Linked DNA regions of Homo sapiens: region 2 is linked to region 1. A link means that fine-mapping ties the variant in region 1 to the expression of a gene that starts in the linked region. Tissue or cell type: whole blood. Region 1 holds a variant in brackets; the other region holds the start of a gene. All regions are shown on one strand. Distances are between the middles of the regions.

The links. PIP is the estimated chance that this variant, and not a neighbour inherited with it, causes the effect.
Region 2: RMI1 starts here. The variant in region 1 is fine-mapped to the expression of RMI1 in whole blood (TOPMed, PIP above 0.99).

What each region holds. Positions count from the first base shown.
Region 1 is chr9:83,876,430-83,884,429 of GRCh38, forward strand. It overlaps KIF27 (kinesin family member 27), which reads right to left. Exons shown (of 18, transcript NM_017576.4): 10 at 7,384-7,589; 11 at 3,868-4,065. Among named protein-coding and RNA genes, the nearest start is that of KIF27, 41 kb to the right of the region's middle. The variant T/C (reference allele first, on the strand shown) is at 3,362.
Region 2 is chr9:83,975,835-83,983,953 of GRCh38, forward strand. It overlaps RMI1 (RecQ mediated genome instability 1), which reads left to right and starts at 4,971. Exons shown (of 3, transcript NM_001358291.2): 1 at 4,971-5,057. It overlaps HNRNPK (heterogeneous nuclear ribonucleoprotein K), which reads right to left and starts at 4,381. Exons shown (of 17, transcript NM_031263.4): 1 at 4,319-4,381; 2 at 2,539-2,618; 3 at 2,361-2,445; 4 at 1,855-1,952; 5 at 1,161-1,217. The coding sequence starts at 2,418. RefSeq lists enhancers at 3,655-3,814, 4,635-4,684, 4,644-5,151, 4,725-4,784, 4,915-4,984 and 2 more and silencers at 4,355-4,494, 5,305-5,384.

The DNA.
Region 1 (8,000 bases):
GGAAAGACTTCCCATGCTCGTGGATAAGAAAATTTAATATTGTCAAGATGTCAATACTACTCAGAGCAATCTAGAGATTCAACAATCCTTATCAAAATTCCAATGGCCTTTTTTGCAGAAATGGAAAGGCCCATCCTCAAATTCACATGGAAAACTGTAGGGGCTCTGAAGAGCCAAAATCATCTTGAAAAAGAAGAGCAAGGTGGGAGGACTTACTTCCCAATTTCAAGACTTAATACAAACCTACAGTAATCAAAATAGTGTGATACTAGCATGAGGATAGACATATAGACCTATGGAATAGAACTGAGAGTTTAGTAACCATATATCTATGGCCAGTTGATTTTTTAAAAATAAAAATTGGGGCCAAGCATGGTGGCTCAGGTCTGTAATCCCAATACTTTGGGAGGCCAAGACCAGAGGATCACTTGAAGCCAGGAGTTCAAAACCAGCCTGGGAAATATAGCAAGACACTGTCTATAAAAAGTAGGGAAAAAAATTAGCCAGGTGTGGTGGTGTGCGTCTGTAGTCCCACTGCTTAGGAGGCTAAGGCAGGTGGATCACTTGAGCCCAGGAATTGGAGGCTGCAGTGGGCTATGATCATGGCACCGCACTTCAGCCTGGGTGACAGAGTGAGACCCTGTCTCAAAAAAACAAAATTGTACATATGTAAGGTATACAACATGATGTTTTGATATACATAGTGAAATGATTACTATAGTCAAGCTAACATATTTATCTCTTCACATAGTTAGCATTTTGGCTTTTTTTTTGTGGTAAGAGTACCTGAAATCCATTCTCTTAGCAAATTTCCAGTATACAATAGTCATCATGCTGTACACTAAGTCTCTAGACTTATTTATTCTACATAACTGCAACTTTGTACCATTTGACCAACATCTCCCCGTTTCCCCATCAGCATTTCCCTATTTCCCACTCCAGCTGATTTTTGATAAGGGTGCCAAGTCCATTCAATGGAGGAAAGAACAGTCTCTTCAACAGATGGTACTGGTACAACTGGAGTTCCACATGCAAAAGAATAAATGTGGACCACTACTTCACACCATATACAAAAACTGACCCCAAATGGACCAATGACCTAAATATAAAAGCAAAAACCATAAAACTCTTAGCAGAAAACATAAATCTTCATGACCTTGGATTTAGGCAATGGATTCTTAGACATGACACCAAAAAGCACAAGCAACAGAAGAAAAAAATAGATAAATTGGACTTCAACAAAACTAAAAATTTTTGCATATCAAAGGATATTATCAAAGTAAAAAGAAAACCTACAGAATAGGAAAAAATATTTGGAAATCACGTATCTGATAGAATTTAATGTCAGAATATGTAAAGAACTCATACAACTCAACAACAAAGACAAAGAACCAAATTAAAATGTGGACAAAGAACTTGAATAGACATTTCTCCAAAGAAGATTTATGAACAGCCAATAAGCACATGAAAAGATGCTCAACATCATTAGTCATTAGGGAAATGCAAACCAAAACCACAATGAGATACAACTTCATCCATCCTGGCTAACACAGTGAAAACCCGTCTCTACTAAAAATACAAAAAATTAGCCGGGCGTGGTGGCGGGTGCCTGTAGTCCCAGCTACTCGGGAGGCTGAGGCAGGAGAATGGCGTGAACTCAGGAGGCGGAGCTTGCAGTGAGCCGAGATCACGCCACTGCACTCCAGCCTGGGCAACAGAGAGACTCTGTCTCAAAAAAAAAAAAAAAAAAAAAAAAAAAAGAGATACAACGATACAACTTCATACCTACTCAGATGACTATAATTAAAAAAAGGAAAGAAACAGGTGTTGACAAAAGTGAGGAGAAATTAGAACATTCACACATTGCTGGTGGAAATGTAAAATGATGCTGCTGCTATGGAGAACAGTGGTTTCTCAGAAAGCTAAGCACAGATTTACCATATAACCCAGAAATTCTACTCCTAGGTACATACTCCTAGGTACATACCCAAAGGAATTGAAAACAGAGACTTATTTGTATGCCAGTGTTCACTGCAGCATTATTCACAATAGCCAAATGGTAGAAACAACTCAAGTGTCCATTGATGGATGAATGGATAAAGAACTGTGGCATATCCATACAATGGAATATTACTTGGCAATAAAAGGGAATGAAGTTCTTGTACATGCTGCAATGTAGACAAACCTTGAAAATATTATGCTAAATGAAATAAGGCTGACACAGAAGGTAAAATATTATATAATTCTACTTATATGAAGTATCTAGAATAAGCAAATTCATATAGAAAGTAGATTAGAGATTACCAAGAGCTGGGGGAAGGGGAAAATGAGGAGCTATTCCATAATATTACAGAGTGTCTGTCTGGAGTGATGAAAATGTTTTGGAAATAGATAGTGGTGATGGTTGCACAAGATTGTGAATGTAATTAATGCCACTGAATTATACACTTAAAAAACAGTTAAAATGGGTTGGGCACGGTGGCTCACACCTGTAATCCCAGCACTTTGGGAGGCTGAGGCGGGCAGATCACCTGAGGTCGGGAGTTCAAGACCAGCCTGACCAACATGGAGAAACCCCATCTCTACTAAAAATACAAAATTAGCCGGGCGTGGTGGTGCACGCCTGTAATCCCAGCTACTCAGGAGGCTGAGGCAGGAGAATCACTTGAACCCAGGAGGCGGAGGTTGTGTTGAGCCGAGATCACACCATTGCACTCCAGCCTGGGCAACAAGAGTGAAACTCCATCTCAAAAAAAAAAAAAAGGAAAAAAAGTTAAAATGGTAAATTTTATGTTATATATATTTTACCACAACTTAAAAATTAATAATAAATAATGAGTAACTTGGTTTAAATGCTCTTTAAGTTCCCTTCCATTGCTGAATTCTGTGATTTTTTTTTTTAAGGTCGGAAAATAGGTTATATCCATTGTTGAAAATCTAGGAAATCTGGGGCATACTGATAACAGGAGAGGCTAAACATGTGCAGGGACAGGGAGTATATGGCATATCTCTGCACCTTCCTTTCAATTTTGCTGTGAACCTAAAACGGCTCTAAAAAAATAAAATCTTAATTTTTAAAATATCTAGGAAATCTCCAATTATGTCCCATGCCTTGGGTTCAGCTTAACATTTCAACGGAACAGAGCCTGGCACATAGTACTAGATAAGTGTCTGTTATTATGATCATCATCATCTTTTTCAAAAAAGCCCTGTGGGACAAGTAGGATTAAGGCCATTTTAGATGAGAATAAACAGACTCAGAGAGGGTAAAATTTTTGAGAAATTTGAGAAAATTTATTTTCTCAATAAATCTCTCAGCCAGCAACTGAGTGAGCTAGGATTTGAACCTATGATAGCCTGG[T/C]CAAAGAGCCTAGGCTGACACCACTAAGTTCTTCCCCAGCCCAATCTATTCTAGAACTGCTGTGCATACAGGTCTGATCATTTTTCTGCTCACTGTGAATGAAATGGTACCACTTTACCTGGTACTTTTTCTGTGTAGCCACATGGACAACGCATGTCAAAGCACTTTGAAAACAGAAAATCCTATTCAAATGATAGGTATTATTTAGAAAGTTGGCTTTATAAATGTATGTTTTTGACAGCTTCAATTAAAGTTAGGATCCTACTAAGAGAAATTATCATTGTACCTTCTTTTGTGAAGTCAAAGCCTTCAAGACAGTACTCAAAATTCAATAAGTAGGTTTTACTACGTAGATGAACAAAGCTTTAAAGTGAATAAGGACAGCAGTGAAGGGCAGGTCAAGGATAGATACTTCACAAGCCAACTGAATGAAGACCATGGATTCGTTAGCTCTGAGCCGTTTAACATTTCATATTATACTTAGCAGGAATGTATGACAATATTACTTTGATTTTTTGCTGGTCCCGCTTAATTACTGCATCCAGTTGCTTCCTTTTTTCATTTTCTTCTCGTAGTTTTCTTTGTAGCTGTATCTTTTGATATTTCATGTGATCTACACTCTGCTCTAGCTCATTAGCACGTTTCTCATTTTGGATTGACAGTGATGCCAGTTTCTTACTATCTTGTTGCTTCTTCTGCAAGACCTGAGATCATATGGAATATTTCAAAATGAAAAACTGAATCTCTCACAATCCTCAACTAAACTTAATCTTTTCATTTGATGGTAAAAGAAGAAATTTTCCCTAGATTTTCATTTATTTTTGACAGGTTTACAAACAATTGCTTACTATCATACATTTCCATTTTTGCAATTAGGGAAACCATCATAATTTGCATCACATATGTAAAAGTATAAAGAATCATGAGACTTCCTGATGTGGACAACAAACAAATGAAACAGATGATTTGCTTTTCATTAATAAGTATTTTAATTTAAAAAATAGTTAAAACAGTATAAAACTGAATTTATATTTTAAGAGTCACTCTTATCATATACCCCTAATCTACCTGTCCTGCTTCCCAACACAAAATTATCAATTTCTTAAATATTCTTCCAGAAAAAAATGTATGCAATGCATATGCATGCAAATAGCTGCATATGTATTCTATATAGACTACTGTCTCCCTTTTTTCCTACTTATCTCAGAGGTCTTTTCATATAGATTTGTTCCAGGTGGCTGCACAGCATTCTACTGTGCTCTTGTTTTTATAGCTACAGCTATAGCCTAAATCGTTAATCCCTGAGTTAGGATGATCAGAGCTGATAACATCTTCCCTGAGAGTGACCAACCATTATAATTACTATTTTAACATTTATCTTAAATTCCTTCTCATCTAACTAAAATTACGTACAGATAGCATTAGACTTTCAAAGTGTTCACACCACTAATATAAAATACTTGTGTTACAATTTAGTCCTGACCAAACAAACATGTATTAAACTTGTATAATGTGATTAGCATTGCACTAAATACCAATTAGGTGGCATAAAAAAGGTAAAGGGATGTCATTCATAAATTATGCAGACCACAATTAATTATTTCCTTTATTTTGGCAATAAAGTGTTAGCATAGGCAAGTTTTGTTTTAATTAAACTAAGTATCCAAGAGGCACTGCTGCTTAGAGCAGTGCTACTCAAAATGTGATCTGTGGACCAGTGCTAGTTCACAGACATTGTTGTCAATTTGCACTCCTCAGCATACTGTTAGATTCGGTTGACGTTTTCATGTGAGACTTTTTTGATCAAGGAAGCTGTGCAATGACTGACCTTTATCTCATCACAGAACAAGAACAATCGGCAGATGGACTACTTTGGGTACCACTGGCTTGGAGGCCACAGGCCTTTGCCATTTCCAGTACCTAAATTTGGACACTGGCTTTGCCACTTACAATTGACAGTAATTACAATACTGCAGCAAAAATTATAATACCAGCATTTTAGTGTCTTTTTCACATAATATTAAAAATATCAGTGTACATCCTGAAAGTCTTACTTAAGAGTGAGATACTGTTGCCATTGTCTTTTGCACTTATTTCATAGTTGCTCAAAAGTGCATCTGTCAGCATTAAACTATTAATGCAGCATGTAACGCTCTACATATACCTAAAGACATTAAAAATATAGGTTTTAGAAGTTTTTAATTTAAAAATGTTTTGTTTTAAAAATTGAAATAACTGTTTTATACCAATAATAATACTAGTATTTCAATATTTTAAAACAGCATGATATGGCTGGGTGTGGTGACTCACACCTGTAATCCCAGCACTTTCTGAGGGCGAGACGGGTGGATCACTTGAGGTCAGGAGTTTGAGACCAGCCTGTCCAATGTGGTGAAACTGCGTCTCTACTAAAAATACAAAAATTTGCGGGTGTGGTGGCAGGCACCTGTAATCCCAGCTATTTGAGAGCCTGAGGCAAGAGGATCATTTGAGCCTGGGAGGAGGCAACTGCAGTGGGCTGAGATCATGCCACTGCACTCCAGCCTGGGCAACAGAGCAAGACTTCACCTCAAAAAAAAAGTATGATATGTTAGAGAACTGAAAACCGGTATTGTCATCACCACTATGGGACTCTGACTGAGTTATTTTACCTTTCTAAACCTTTCTTTCCACATTTGTAAAATGGCTAAAAATGCCCACTTCAAAGGATTAAATAATGCGTATAAACCATTTGGTATGTATAGGCCCTCAAATGGTAACTACTGTCCTCCTCATCCTCCTTATCATCCTTATCCCCATGAGTAGTGCATGGATATGTCAAAGGTACAAAATTTCTAAAACTATGTCTTCTTTCTGTCCTCTGCTGTATCAGATGTTTCTTTTGAGGTAAAGTTCTACACCTTTCATTTTCTTTCCTTATCAGTACTCTTAGCAGAAAAGGATATACAGCAGGAAGCAAAGCATGGAAAGGTGAATTCCAAAGTGGAAATAACTATGCTGAAGGAAAATGGAAGGTGTGACATAGATAACCACCCTATGTCCTCCTTTAAGCAGTTCAAATATTCAAGTCATATTATTTTAACTTGATGTTGACTTGAGAAACTATTTAGGTAACAATTTTTAGTGGAAATATCCAGATGTTTGAGGTGGCATCAGAAACCCCAGGAGGGACTTTTCAGGCCTGTCACACCAGAATATACTGGTATATTACAATATACCGGGCACACCAGAGGTATATTGTAAACATCTATTTTGTTTAAAGCAAATAACTGTGGCATAGTTCAATAATAATAATAATAATAATGCTGTGAATAGGTTAATTACAACTCTACCTAAAATGGAAAAATATAAAAATGTTTCTATAACATGAAAGAAAGCAGTAGACCATGAGAGATAAAGAAATAGAGGACACATCCTAGAAAGTTCATTATGATCAGACTAACAAAGCACTGTGACTATCTCCAAAGCACCTGGAAATGGCTTCATCACACAAAATCTCCATGTGATGGAATATTTCTCATAGAATAGAATTTTTAACTGTAGCTATTTCTAAAGTTAAAGCTAAAACCAGGCATTAGGAAGTTAAGGATGAGTTGCAGTACACAAAGTTATTAACCTTTCTTAAGCCAATCAGTTATGGTTTGGGAAAACCATATCTCGAAATAGTTCCCATTTGTTGAGTGTCTACAAAGTGTCATATATGTACCAGCTGTTTTATTTGTATTATTTAATCATTATTTAATCCTTTGTCCTTCAGAAATAAACACTGTTTCGTGGTTACGTTTATTTCTTACCATGTGGTTTTTTGATATGATGATTGAAAGAAGATACTTCTTGAATTAAGAAATATACTACCCAGATTGTAAAATATGTAAATCGACCAGCACACTACAAAAGAAAAGTTGATACCCAGTTTCTCTTGCTGGTATAAACTGAATCCCACTTCTTTCCTAACTCAGTACAAGAATCCTCAGAAGCAAGAAAGCTTAAATAAGTTTTCTCAATTACATTTTTTAAATTACCTGAACTCTCAGCTTTGCAGCATCCATCTTTTTACGAAACTCTTTCTGTAATTTTACCTTCATTGCAACATCAGAAAGATCTTTGTTTTCCAGCTCCTGTAGCTGCTTTTGTGTTTCAATCAGTTCGACTTTTGCCTGTTCTGCATCATGCTCTAGCTTTGTTACTTTCAAAGAATACTGCTTGCTTACAGACTTGGCATCATTACCTTAACCGTAATAATAATTATTATTAGTATAAATTATGTAAAAAGAAGTTAAACATCCAAAACATAAAAATACTCTACTCTAAAATCCAGCCAGGCAGTGATACTATTTAAGGCATAGCATTAAAAACCCAGTTGTCCCCACCCACCCCCATCAAACACAGCTTGCCATCAGGCCTCTTAATAATTAGTTCCTTAATGACTGTTCCCATCTGCTGCCAGTCAGTCTCACTGGTTCAATGTTTGGCGTTTTAGAGTGACATCTCTGGTCCTCTGAATTTGTAGTTGAGCTTTGCTGGCATCAAACTCAGTTAAGAAGGATATTTGGAGTGACTGTTTGTCCTCTTGCTTAGTATACTCCAGCCTCCTGCTACCAATAATCTGTCTGCTTGAATTCCTTTTTTAAATTATTAT
Region 2 (8,119 bases), 99 kb after region 1:
ACTTCTCTAAATCTGACTGTGGCTTAACATTAAGGACCTCAAATGATGGTTCTAGCCTTTTTTATTTTTTAAGAAAAACAAACGATGTTTCAGTAGCAGGCTGGCTCATGAGGGTAGACACAAAACCTGACTCAAAGTTTACTGAAATTCTTGAGGAAATGGGGAAATTAATAACCCAGATAATTATACAGAACATCTGGATTAAGAGGAGAGAGGTTTATAAAAGACAAAACAAAAATTCCCACACCACCAAAAACCCTAACTAATAAGACTGGTTTGGTTTTCTGGAGGTTTTGAAATGCATTCCTAGATCCTAACAGGCAAGTTTGTAAAATTTTAAACAAATTTTCAAGTTCAGTTTACAGTAATCAAGAGGAACATACAAAGATCTGCGACCAAGAGAGAAATGAAATACTGTCAAATAAGTACTCGACACAAAGTTATTTGCCTCATTTTTAGCAAGAAAAACATTAAGAAATGTGTACACTATGAGAAAAAAAATTTAGAAATTTTGGTGTAGCCAAGTCCTATAAATGTGCTCACTTCTGGCACTGCCAACATTTAATGTGTCTAATCACAAGAGTCAACCCACTGTAAAATGAAGACTCAAACAAATCATAGGCATTGACGAACAGTTTCCCAATTATAAGATTAAGTGCCTACTCTATTCTTTACCCATATTTAAATCATGCAACCTCAACATTAAATTCTTTGTGCTCCATGTGCAAGCTGTTAAAGAACAGATGGACATTTTTCTTCCCAAAGAAAACAAAAAAATTTTTCTGGATTTAACCAGCCACCTGCAATGGTTTTCAGTAATACTGTAATTGATTCACACACAGGAAATGGTGCAATCAAGGATTTTTACACTTTGTCGCTATTTCTAATTAAGATGTTATCTTGCTTGATGAAGTGAATAATTTGGTGGACTCTTATTAAAATGTGAAGAGGTTTGAAAGAAACCACCCCCCCACCCTGCTCAATCTGGGCTTTTGTTAAAACAGGAATGGATAACTTCGAAATCAATTCTGTAATAATAAATTATTACAAATGTCTTTGTAGCTAAACTATGAAATGATTTCTAGGATGTAAATCTTTAAATTTCTATAGACATATAAACTGAAGCTGCTCGTGTAGTAGTTTAAACTCTTAATACTTACGTCTGTACGGAGAGCCTTAATATTCTTGCCTCCTTTTCCAATCACTGCCCCAGCATTCTGGAGAAGATACAAAGACAAAAAATTATTTTGCCTTTCCCTAAAATTAATAGCTACCTACGCTCTTAGATTTTGCTAAAAAATCCTCTAACCTGTTTGTTATAAGAATAAAAATCTATTTGGGGTTGTAAAAACGACCAGGCCAAAACCAAACCAAAAATCAAAATATAATTCTAAGTGCTGTGAGGACTAGATAGTTTGGAGTACTCAATGTCAGAAATAACACCAAGTATAAAATAAAACTAAGCACAGATTTTATAGCACCCTTTGGTAAAATAAGTCAATTAATTTAGTATTAGTAGGTACCTTCATATTGTGACCTGTGATCAAACAATAAACTGCCAACCAAGCAGTTTCCTAAGGAGTCCACACATAATTAAGATTTAATCTATTAACACTTTAAGAATCACACTCTCCTCCTAGTTTGACCTGTAGTGGCGGTTCACTACAGCAAGGGCTTTAATCTTAACTGTTAGTGGAATAAGAAAACCACCAGAGCCTTCAAGTCTGTTTAGAAAGAACCAAATGTTTTATATTCTTCAATCTGTAAAACTTTGACTTTCTAGAAAGCCAAACCAGACCTTAATTTCTACCTGAGTATGAACCACCTTCAAATTTTCAAGAATAAAATTTATACCTTGCTCTGAAGCAGAATGCGTAATTCAACCATCTCATCAGTGTTTCTAGATCTTTTAAATGCTTGTTCCTCTTCCATATCTTCTGCAGGGCGTTTACCTAAAAATTAACAGTTCACATTTCAAAGAAAGCAGCGAAGTCTCCAAAGTAACTCCATTCTGTTTCAAGAGACTTGTTGCTAATCTTAGGCATGTTTTGAAAAGACCAAAGGCATTGCTACAGACTTGAACGTTATGCTTCCATCTAGTAAAATGCACCAAACACAAAATACTGCCACAAAATACTTCAAAGGATTTGAAATCCCAAAATGCAAGAAAAATTCTTTATATGCAAATCAGTTACTTCTACTTCATAAATAAAAGCTAAGATGTAACTACTGATAATCGCAGAATTACATAAACAGTAATACCAAAAATTCACCACACACTCCTAAGGCAATAATTAACAGAAAAAGGCAATTTATTAACAGGATAAAAAAATACTGTTAAAACTAAAATTTCTTCTCACCAAATTCACCATTGGTTTCAGTGTTAGGGAAGGTTTCTTCTGGCTGTTCAGTTTCCATATTCTTTTATTAAACGGGCACACCAATCTGTGGAAAAATAAAGCAGCTAGTACATTTGGCTTATTGGAAAGCAAGCTGTAAAAAAAAAAAAAAAAAAAAGACATTGCTTCTAGAACGTACCAGTTATTATATATCCTTGCAGAGCAGAACTGAAGCGTTCTGGGTCGGACCAACAACTGACACCCCAGTGCTGCAGTAGCCTATAAGAACCAACACAAATCAGTTTTGCTTTTGTTTATTCTTATTACTGAATATTTGTTTCCGATCACAGTGAATACTGATTTGAACCCAAAAAACCAGCTGTTTCTAAAACTTGATTCTTCATTTTAGGGTTTCACAATTCAAATGACTGCCTAAAAAATACAAAATTCAAGGGAGCCTGGTTTCATTTTTTGCTAAGTTAGAACAATAACTTTTAGCCACTGGATTAAGTCCCACCACAGCAATGAATTGTTTTATACGGCACATTCCCAAAACCCTGAAAAGATAAATGTCATCCACAAAGCATACATTTATGAAAAGTTACAATGCATCTTATTCACTGGGAAAACTAATTTTATATTAAAACTTCCAATTGCTTTCCTATTTCTTTCGACTCATGCTTGAAGCGATCTTATGTGACATCTCTAAAGTTTACAAATACAACGGCAATTGCGAACACATCCAACAACCAGAACAATCTACCGGAGGGATAAATCCAAAAATCTAATATAGGACCAGACCCAAACTACCACAATACCAGTCTATTATTAATCAGCGAAACAAATGGAGCCCTTGAAAACTAACAGTCACTAGCGGATTATTTTAAATTAGGCTTAAGGGAGTACAACACAACAATCATGCCTGTAACACGAAAACTAAAGTGTCTACGTGCCAAAACGGTCGATAGGACTACAAACAGCCTTTTTAAGCTTCCCTCTTGTCGGGACTAGGAGTTGACAAGCGGCCTCTACTAGAAGGTTGGCTAGACAGCAAAGAGCCAACAAGCGAGGCACATTTATGCCTCCCATTCTCCCATACCGTTGGTCGACTTATTGCTCTCCTAACGACAACTGAAACGACATCCTTCCGGCCCAGCACGCAATTTCTGAGGTGTGGTGGGAGAAGAGTTGGATAAGAAAGTTTAAGCAAAAACAGCAGGGCTTATCTGTAAGAATAACGTTGCCGCTTGCCGTTCACCCTTCGGGTCCTGCAGTCACTAGTCCCCAGGCCTCAAAAATCCGCTAAGTATGTGCTCCACTGGCCGAGCGCCAACGCGCCCTCCCCTCCCCGCCTCCCGGCACCGAGATCAAAAACAGCCGGGTAACAGGACGGGAAAAAGCGAAAGTCGACAGCAGAAGCACCGCACCTCTCCTCACCCGGATCCGACAGGAAATGGCGGCCCGCGTAATGGCGACTACGTGCTACTAGGCGGAGCCGAGCGCCGACCCCCTCCCCCACCCACCACGCGGTCCCGAGGTCTCATCCCCCGCATCCTCCCCCCACTGCCCGAGACAAAGCCATCGAGGCAGCCCTGACCGTTCCATCCCCGCCGCTCCAGCTCCGACCCCGGGCCGGGAGACCCAAGGTGAGGCGGGGCTCACACAAAGAGAGCGGCGGCGCGACCTTCTCCCCGCACCGGCCTCCTTTCCTCCACGAGGTCCCTAGTTCCCAGTGCCACATAGCTCCAGCTCATCCTAGAGGCACATGCCTCACGAATCCCCAAGTCTCTAGGACCACAACGCGGACTGCGGATACACGCTCAGGGAAATGGCGGAGGTGGGGGAGGGGACACCGGGCAACGTTCCCACTCGGAGAAGCGGCCAAACACCAAAGCGGCTCCCAGGACGCCTCCCTCAAGCGGAAAAACTGGGCTCCGACCCTCACCTCCACGAGCCGCTCCCCCAACCCGGCTCCTCACCGCGCGAGACTGCCGTCCCTCCGCTGCCGCGCCGCCTCAGCCGGTCGGAGCTAGACAGAAAACGAGCGCAGGCTCCCCTCCCCCGCCTTCTCGCGTCCTCCCCGCCGTCGCGCCCTATTGGCTGCCAGGGCTTCAGCGATGGTGCGAGGGCGAAGCGATTGGCCCGAGGCCACGTCAATCAAGGCGACGGAGGAGGCGACAACCCCGCCTCCCGCCAGCGCCTCCCTTCGGGCTGGGAGGCCACTAAGGGCTCGAGAAAACCCGGGCTTGGGAAAAGTAAACGCAGCCTTTCAGGGAGCCCCAACCCTTACCCGAATCAGCAATACCCAAGCTCCAATAACTCCAATTACCTATAGGCCGCGAACAAGTGGGACACAGGCAAGACGTCGAGGTCGGTGCAGCAGAGAAACAGAGGATAATGGCGTCTGCAGTGCTGTCGCCTGGAGCGCCCTCCTCCTTTCTCGTTCGCGCACTCACTAGCTGGGGGGAGGGGCGGCTAGGGGGCGAACCTCTCGCGAGATCTAACAACTGCCTAGTTCACGCGCACAGGGAGGGGGCGGGGAAGGGGCGTTTTCCAGCCCCGAAGGAGTCCTTTGGGGTTGGAGGAGGGGCGCGAGCGCGCGGCAAATCGGGCGGGAAGAGGTAAAAAAGGAACTGGGAGCGCGCCGCGGCGGTTCCTGTCCTTACAGTTGCGCTGCCCAGGGACCGATGTTGCGCGAGGAAAATGCGGGACGCCCAGGTCGGTGCTCGGCCCAGACTTATGCCCGTGTTTTCACAGCCCACACTCGTGCCCGAAGCCCCTTACCCCGCCCCGGGCTGTGGTCTGTGGGCTGTGGGACGAGCTGCGGCGCGGTAAGTGCGGGCCGTCTGCGTCCGCTGGGCCGGGCCCACGCTTCGGAAACCCGTTGTTTGTAATGGTCCGGGGCGCCCGTCAGTCAAGGCCGGGCCCGGGGGCGCAGCTGGCGGTTCTCGGCCTGCCTTGCGCCGGGGCGGGAGCCGGGGAAACGCGGGGCGAGCCTGGGAGTACTGGAGAACTTCTCGCCGAGAGGGCACAGGCGGTTTCACAGGGCTCTCGGTTCTGAGACTTTCCTCTTGGGTAATGGGACCTGAGATGGAAGTATTTTGTAGTGTCGTCGCTGTAGTTTATTCCGATAAAATTTTTAGGCAATATGTATTGCCCTTGTCTCCTAAAATGAATGCGTATCGCTGAATACGTTGCAGACCTCCACGTTCCATTCAAAGCGCCTGCCTTGTGGCAGTGATGAAAACAGACAAAAACCCTTGCCCTCAAACGTGCTCCTGTTCTAGCGGGTTCAGCGCACACTTGCATTGTATTCGGTTCCTTACTTTTAAGGCTCCTGTGCCAAGCTTTCATGACTTCCTTTGTTAAGGCACATAAGGTCACTTTCAATCGGTGACAGCCCTGGGAAATCTCCAGCCCTGGTAGTACCCGCTTTCCACATCCTTACTCGTCAACCTTCCAGCCTCCGCCCACAATCCCAAACTCATTTTGAAGCATAAAGGTGTCATAATCTGCACATAAAGCGAAATCCACCATTGGCCGAATACATGCATATATTTTAGTGTTGATGAATTTGTGCTGATTCATTCCTGTTATAATGTTTCCTTCTTGGGTAATTTGCAAAACATATATACCAGCATTCTTTTAAATGGCCATGATTGCATCCACCCAGCATCTTTTACTTGACTGATTAGAGGAAAACTCTTGTTAGGGCGCACTGAGGATTTCATGACAAACACCAGTATTTACATTCTGGGAGGATACGTTAACACATGCTGTTAGAACATAATGTCCGGGATTGTGGAATTTATAAAAGTTCTCTTTAAGTGATAATATAATTTTTTAAATGGTCCCCACCATGAAGAGTGTATAGTCTTGTTGGGTAGGTAAAACTTAACTCGCATTTCAGTTCTAAAACACAAAGTTCAGAATTTTATTAAATATTCAAAACTGATGAGTTTATGTAGGGGCTTAGGATACTTGGATTATAGAGATTTAATCCGCCAGTTAGTATTTGCAACATTTAATTGAGTTTGTCATTTAAAACCTGAGACATGTCACTGACACTAATATGCACAAATAGCGGTACGGTAATGATGATGCTGTGCTTTCTTTCAAATTAGGATTTATGTTGCAGTCATCATTTTCTTGATAAGGAATGATGAGTGGGAATCACAAGTAAGCAGCCCTATATAAGAACCTCTTCCGGCCGGGCACGGTGGCTCACGCCTGTAATCCCAGCACTTTGGGAGGCCGAGGCGGGCGGACCACAAGGTCAGGAGATCGAGACCATCCTGGCTAACATTGTGAAACCCCGTCTCTACTAAAAAGACAAAAAAAAAAATTAGCCGGGTGTGGTTGCAGGAGCCTGTAGTCCCAGCTACTCAGGAGGCCGAGGCAGGAGAATGGCGTGAACCCGGAAGGCTGATCTTGCAGTGAGCCGAGATCGCGCCACTGCACTCCAGCCTGGGCGACAGAGCGAGACCCTGTCTCAAAAACAAAAACAAAAACAAAAAAAAAAACCTCTTCCTCCCAGTTTCATTGTCCAGACTGGACCCCGACTGGTGTAAATTATTCATCCCCTCTAGATGCCATTGTGGGATGGTTGCTATTTTTCCCCCCATTTGATTTCTTCTTTACGTCTTTTTAATTTTTAGGTTTGCTCTTTAAATAACAGGAAAGTCTTTTTTCTCCATCCTTTTATTCTCTGTTTGAAATTAAGACTTTTCAACCCAATAATTTTATACCTGTGTTCATTCAAGAACTTAACAATACATTCATTGACTCCAGTCTTGTGTAATTGGTACAATGGTGTAATGGTGTAGTGATCACTTTGGACTCAGTGAATTTAGACCCAATATTACTTAGATGGGGGATTTACTTTAGATGGGCTAATATAATTGAGAATGTACACTATCCAGCTGCATTATTGTTTAAAATAGTATTTATAACTACTATTTCCTGAGTTCCCCACTGTGTGCTAAACGTTGTGCTGGCAGTTTAATACTTTTTAGAGTTCTTTGAGCAAGTTGTTAGTTATCTTTGTTTTGTGAACGAATGAACTAGCACTAAGAGAAGCTAAGGAACATATCCAAGGTCACATAGCAAAATGGGGTTCCAGATTCTCTTTCTGTCTTTTCCTTACTTTAGGTTATGGAGGATCCATAAAAATCTCCTCTGATTACTTCTTCTAATTTCAGTCATATACGGTATAAATTTTTCCTCCCTAATTTTCGGAGTATCTTCTCAAAAATTCCAGGATTACCTTGAACTCATCCTCAATGAATTAAAATGTAGACTTACCTTTATTGTTTAGATGAAGATAATGGAACTGTGGAGTAGATTTAAATATTCGTTAGTGCTTTTAAGTCTCAGCTATTGTCAGAATGACACACGTAAGGTCCAAAAGGATGACACTCCTGCCTCGCTTTTTATTAAAAAAAAATTGGAATATATGAGGCTGACTGAAAATTAATCTGTAAATCAAATATGCCTAGACCTTCGTGGTAGGTGATAAAATTTTCCCACTTTATTTTCTTTTGTTCAGTTCCTGGCAGTACAGATCTAGAATGCAGATTAGTGTGGTCAGCCAAGTTTATCATTCATACAATGCTAATCAGCTTTCTTAAAAATGTTTTTTCCTGATTATAAAATTAATGGGGATTAAGCTGTATGTAATTTTATATGTGTTCTTTTTCCCAACAAAATGTGAATGTATTTCTTTGTCATTAAATAATTCTTAAAAATGGTTTCTTTAAAGATTTCATAGCTTTTCATTT